Linked DNA regions of Homo sapiens: region 2 is linked to region 1. The links come from fine-mapping of genetic effects on gene expression. Tissue or cell type: lung. Region 1 holds a variant in brackets; the other region holds the start of a gene. All regions are shown on one strand. Distances are from middle to middle.

The links. PIP is the estimated chance that this variant, and not a neighbour inherited with it, causes the effect.
Region 2: PIGG starts here. The variant in region 1 is fine-mapped to the expression of PIGG in lung (GTEx, PIP 0.98).

The regions. Positions count from the first base shown.
Region 1 is chr4:692,687-695,369 of GRCh38, reverse strand. No RefSeq gene overlaps it. Among named protein-coding and RNA genes, the nearest start is that of SLC49A3, 4.9 kb to the right of the region's middle. RefSeq lists enhancers at 41-541, 1,649-2,235, 2,236-2,683. The variant C/T (reference allele first, on the strand shown) is at 1,200.
Region 2 is chr4:497,949-500,631 of GRCh38, reverse strand. PIGG (phosphatidylinositol glycan anchor biosynthesis class G (EMM blood group)) reads right to left here and starts at 1,422. Exons shown (of 13, transcript NM_001127178.3): 1 at 1,143-1,422; 2 at 31-236. The coding sequence starts at 1,296. ZNF721 (zinc finger protein 721) reads left to right here and starts at 1,476. Exons shown (of 3, transcript NM_133474.4): 1 at 1,476-1,576. RefSeq lists enhancers at 461-1,324, 1,282-1,761, 1,325-2,190.

The DNA of each region.
Region 1 (2,683 bases):
AAGAGAGTTTCCTAAACTTGGGGTTCTTCCCCAACATGCACCTGCTGCCTGTCCAAGTTCCACCCACATCGTCCCGTCCACCCACGGGAACTGATGTTTCCCGTGTCCACGTATGTGTGAAATTGGCTGGCTAGCTTGTTAGCTTGTGAGCAGAGCAAAGTCTCAGGCACTTCAAGTCTCTGATTTAACACATGTTCATTTTATAACACACACACACACACACACACACACACACACAAACTCATTTCACACCATGTAGATAAGAAAGTAGATACCTGATCACACAATGTACAAAATATTAGTTAACTATTTAAACCCTACACACACACACACACACACACAAAAATTCTTCTTCACCTTCTTTTTTTTTTTTTTGAGACGAGAGCCTCACTCTGTCACTCAGGCTGGAGTGCAGTGGCAAGATCTCAGTTCACTGCAACCTCCGCCTCCCCAGTTCAAACGATTCTCCTGCCTCAGCCTTGTTTGAAATGCTTGTTCCCCGGTGCTGTAAAGAAATAGCACTGGAACATAAATTTAATTTACTCAACAAGGCCATTTCTTACTTTCTGCAGAAAGGGCACACTCGCCAGCAGTTTTGCCGTGAAGGTACACCGAACAAAGGAGACAGGGTCATTTATAACCTGACGCGTCCCCCCGACTGCTGTGTCTGGTTTCCATTGGCTGGAACGGGACCTCACATTCTGTATTGGTCGCGATTGGCTAGCAACTTAGAACTTTTCAAAAGAGGCAAAGGCAGAGGAGAACAAAGGAAGGAGGAAGTAATTTGTGGAATGCTGAGAAAGGTAAAAACACCTTCAAATAAGGAAGAGGAACAGACTGTGACCTAATGCTTGCTGGGACCAGTATAAGTATGCCAGGGCAAATATTTAGGCTAACTTGTGGGAGCTAAGAAAAAAAAGTACATTCATTTATTTATTATGGCTAGCAGATATTTAAGAATGTTAGCACAGGTCTTTGAATAAATTTTGCTTCTAAGAGAAGTTACTATTTATTCCTAATTAGATGGGGAGGAAAGTTTTTGAAGAGGAAGCTCTACTTAACTTTTTACAGCCTCCCAAGTAGCTGGGATTACAGGCACGCACCACCCCGCCTGGCTAATTTTTTGTATTTTTAGTAGAGATGGGGTTTCACCATGTTGGCCAGGCTAGTCTCAAACTCCTGACCTCGAGTGATCCACC[C/T]GCTTCGGCCTCCCAGAGTGCTGGGATTATAGGCATGAGCCACTGCGCCCAGCCCACAGCTTGGTTTATACATTTTAAATAGGCATGAGACATCGATCAATACATGTAACATGTACATTGGTTCAGTCTGGTAAGGCTGAACAACATGAGGAGGTGGAGGGCTTCAGGTCACAGGTAGATTTAAAGATTTTCTGATTGGCCATTGGTGAAGGACTTACTATCTAAAGACCTGGAATCAAACAGAAAGGAATCCCTGGGTTAAGATGAGAGGTTGTAGAGAGCAAGGTTTATTGCAGATGAAGCCTCCAGGGAGAAGACTTGGGAGAGAATAGATGGTAAATGCTTATCAGACTCAAGGAGACTGAAGGTCTCTGTGTTGATGTTTGTGAGGCTGCTCTGATTCCCATTTCCCCTCATGGCCTGAAGCAGTTTTTCAGGATAATTTGGAATGTTGTTGGCCAAGGGGAGGGTCCATCCTTTGGTTGGGGGCTTAGAATTTTAATTTTCATTTACACACAAATGAGAACACTAGGTCCTTCCACGGCTTATACCAAATCCTCTGTGAAGGAGAGACAGAGGGGGCCCCCTAGACTCCAGATTAAAGGGGCCCCGACTTCGGGGCTCACGGGAGCCTCCACGCTGGACGGGGAGGGGAGGAGGAGGACACGGAGGGCTCCTCTCTGGCAGGTCCGACTGGAGTGGCATGTGGCCTGGACATGGCCAGAGCCCTCCCTCATCTAAGTAAATAGACAGGCTCATGTTCCCTCTGTGGCCTGGACGTGGCCAGGGCCCTCCCTTGTCTAAGTAAATAGACAGGCTCATGTTCCCGTGCACATCTCTGTAAAAGGATGGGCCTTCCACATGCTTGAGGATGCATTCACGTTGTCACTCTGGGGCAGCCTGTGCACCCGGGTCTGGGTGTGCCGACTCAGTCCCGGCCACGGGCGCTGTCCCGCATGGGCTATCAGCAGCCGGGCCCTGGAGGGAGGCGCAGAGATGGGTGGGAGTGATGGCATGCAGGCGCGTGGAGATGGGGCACATGGAACCAGACGGGTCAAGGAGGCTCCACACAGGAAGTGGGCACCCCGCGGAAGAACCTGTCTGGCAGGCCCGGGGCGGTGGAGGGACCCACAGCAGAGAGGCCATGCGTCCCACGGTTTCTGTTTTTACCCTGGAGCTGTGCCGGGCAGTCCTTCCCCCAGGGCTTCGGGGTGGGCAGACGGCTCCTGCCCTCACATTGCTGAGGTTCTCTGGGAGGAGCAGATAAAAACCACTCAGAGGAGCAGCAGGACAGGCAGGCCGTCTCAGCGCAGCAGGTGAGGTTTCCTCCCTGACAGGCTGGAAAAGGCGGCCTGCCTCCTCCTTCAGCCTTGGCAGAGCAACTGTTTCCAGTGGCTTGATTTTGAACAAGATACTGTTTAGGAAAGACACATTAGCCCGCAATTAACGAATGCTAGTCTGGGATGCTGACAGAAGTCTATGTT
Region 2 (2,683 bases), 190 kb after region 1:
ATGATTCATAAAACATTAAGGCAAACTTACCTTGATTCGAGGCATAGTAACTGTAGGTGGCTTTGCTTCAGCCACAAAACTGTGAGATGCTCCTTTTTCCACAAGGTAAGTTGTGTAGGGCATAAATTTCACACCCTTTGACCCAAACACAAAATCATCTCTCAAGGCATCTATCAGAACAATAACAACTTTACTGAAGAGAGGTGGTGGCAGCGTGGTCCAGTTAGAACTGGCTCCTAAGTGTTTGAAAGAAAAAAAAGGAAATTGAACTCTAAACTTTCCTTAGCATCAAGCACCTTCACAATCTAGCTTCTACCTACTTCTCCAGCACATACCCTGCGATATCTACATAACCCAACCCAAAAGGAGGCGACTTGTACTTGGTAGGTAGTGCTGGGGGGAAAGGACGGGGGTTAACAGGAGTAATCTTAGGGACCCACAGTAGCAAGCAGTGAATTATCCTCAGTATGGTGAAGAGTACTGGGGTAGGAGAATCCCTACGTAAGGGTCCTGGAATGGGACATTTAGGGAGCTTGACCTAAAACGCAGAGCTGCAGCTACGGGATGGCTGGGCGTTTACATACTGCGTTTACATGGTCAGCGGCTGGCGATGTGTGCAAGTGGTCCAGAACCAGGGCGCCTTTACTTGCTGTATATGGCTGGGTAGGTGAAGCCTAGGAAGAGGCCTAACGCAGAGAGGCCTTAGCCCCTAGGCAGGGAAAACATCTTGGAGGAATATAAGAGACCAAAACGCGAGGGGATCGGCAGGGGTCTTATCTGTTGTGTGCTAGGGGGCAAAAAGGGCGCCTATAACGGGGAGTGACCCAAAGGCTGCTCAGGAAAGGGGCGGGAGCTCTGGACGAGTAGAAGTGGAGAGGCTGGATCCCAGGTATGGACACAGCTTACTTTGTGGTGATCAGGAAGGAAGGTCGAAGTGGGGCCAGTAGAGGTGGTTGCCACAAAGTTGTAAGAATACAGAAAAGAGACGCTGGAGCGGTTAAAAAAAATTTCTGAGGTGGGGACCATAATGGAAGAGACCACCGGGGAGCGCCGAGAAGAAATCCGAGCAGCGAGGCTCAGAAAAAAGGTCTTCTAGGGGATGTGGGGTCAGGGGAGCGGAGACGCCGGGGAGGGGTCCGTACCAGCCGAGGGTTCGGGCGCTGGGGGCTCCGCTCCGTGTTCCGCTCTGGCAGAGGAACGAACGGGAGCCGGGAAGAATCCCCGAAGGAAGACCGCGATCCCTAGCACCTCGATCGCTACGCAACAGGTAGCGAAAGTCCCGGAGCCCAGCCGCATCGTGGACACGCTAGGCTGGATGCGGAACCGACCCCACCTGGAGCCTCGCCCTGCTGCAGCCGCGCTTCCGGCTCCAGGTAGCCGCCTCTAAGCAATAACGCCAGGCCTTATCGTCGCAGCGACAGTGGCGTCACGTCCGCCGGCGCGCCACAGCAGCGCGTCACTTCCGCCAGCCCGCCACAGCGGGGCGTCACCTCGGACATACGAACAGCGGGCGGTGTTCCCGGCTCCGTGGGGCCGTCTTCCCGGCGAGTCCGCGACGGTCGCCGCCCACGGCGAGGTACGAGGTTTTAAAAAGTTTTTAATTTGGAAGGCAGGGTGCAGTGGCTCACGCCTTTAATCCCAGTACTTTGGGAGGCCGAGGCGGGCGGATCACGAGGTCAGGAGATCGAGACTATCCTGGCCAACATGGTGAAACCCCGTCTCAACTAAAAATACAAAAAATTAGCGGGGCGTGATGGCGGGTGCCTGTCGTCCCAGCTACTCGGGAGGCCGAGGCAGGAGAATCGCTTGAACCTGGGAGGCGGAGGTTGCAGTGAGCCGAGATCGCGCCACTGCACTTCTGCCTGGCAACAGAGCGAGACTGCGTCTCAAAAAAAAAAAAAAAAAGAAAATTCAACCCAATACCTCAGACAACTGGTAAATATCTTAATGATTAACTTCGTTTTAAAGATGCCACATGAGTGAGATCATGAGGTATTTGTCTTTCTGTGTCTTATTTTGCTTACATGATATCCTCAGGTTTATCCGTGTTGTGGCAAATGATAGGGTTTCATTCTTTTATTAGAGCTGAATAGTACTCCATTGTGTATATATACCACATTTTCTTTTTTCTGAAAGGAAAATCTTGGGGCCCCAAAATTACTAAACTAAGGGAAAAGACAAGCTCGGAACTGCTCAGGACAAACCTGCCTCCCATTCTATTCAAAGTCATTCCTCTGCTCACTGAGATAAATGCATATTGATAGCCTCCTTTGGAGAGGCTTATCAGAAACCCAGAAACTGCAACCATTTGTCTGTCACCTACCTGTGACCTGGAAGCCCCCTCCCTGTTCCAAGTTGCCCCCGCCTTTCTGGACAGAACCAATGTCCTTCTTTTTTTTTTTTTTTTTTTTTTTTTCTTTTTCTTTTCAGATGAAATCTCACTCTGTCGCCCAGGCTGGAATGCAGTGGCGTGATCTCAGATCACTGCAACCTCTGCCTCCCGGGTTCAAGCAATTCTCCTGCCTCAGCCTCCTGAGTAGCTGGGATTACAGGTGCGTGCCACCACGCACGGCTAATTTTTGTATTTTTAGTTGAGACGGGGTTTCACCATGTTGGTCAGGCTGTTCTTGAACTCCTGACCTCGTGATCCGCCCGCCTCGGCCTCCCAGAGTGCTGGGATTTA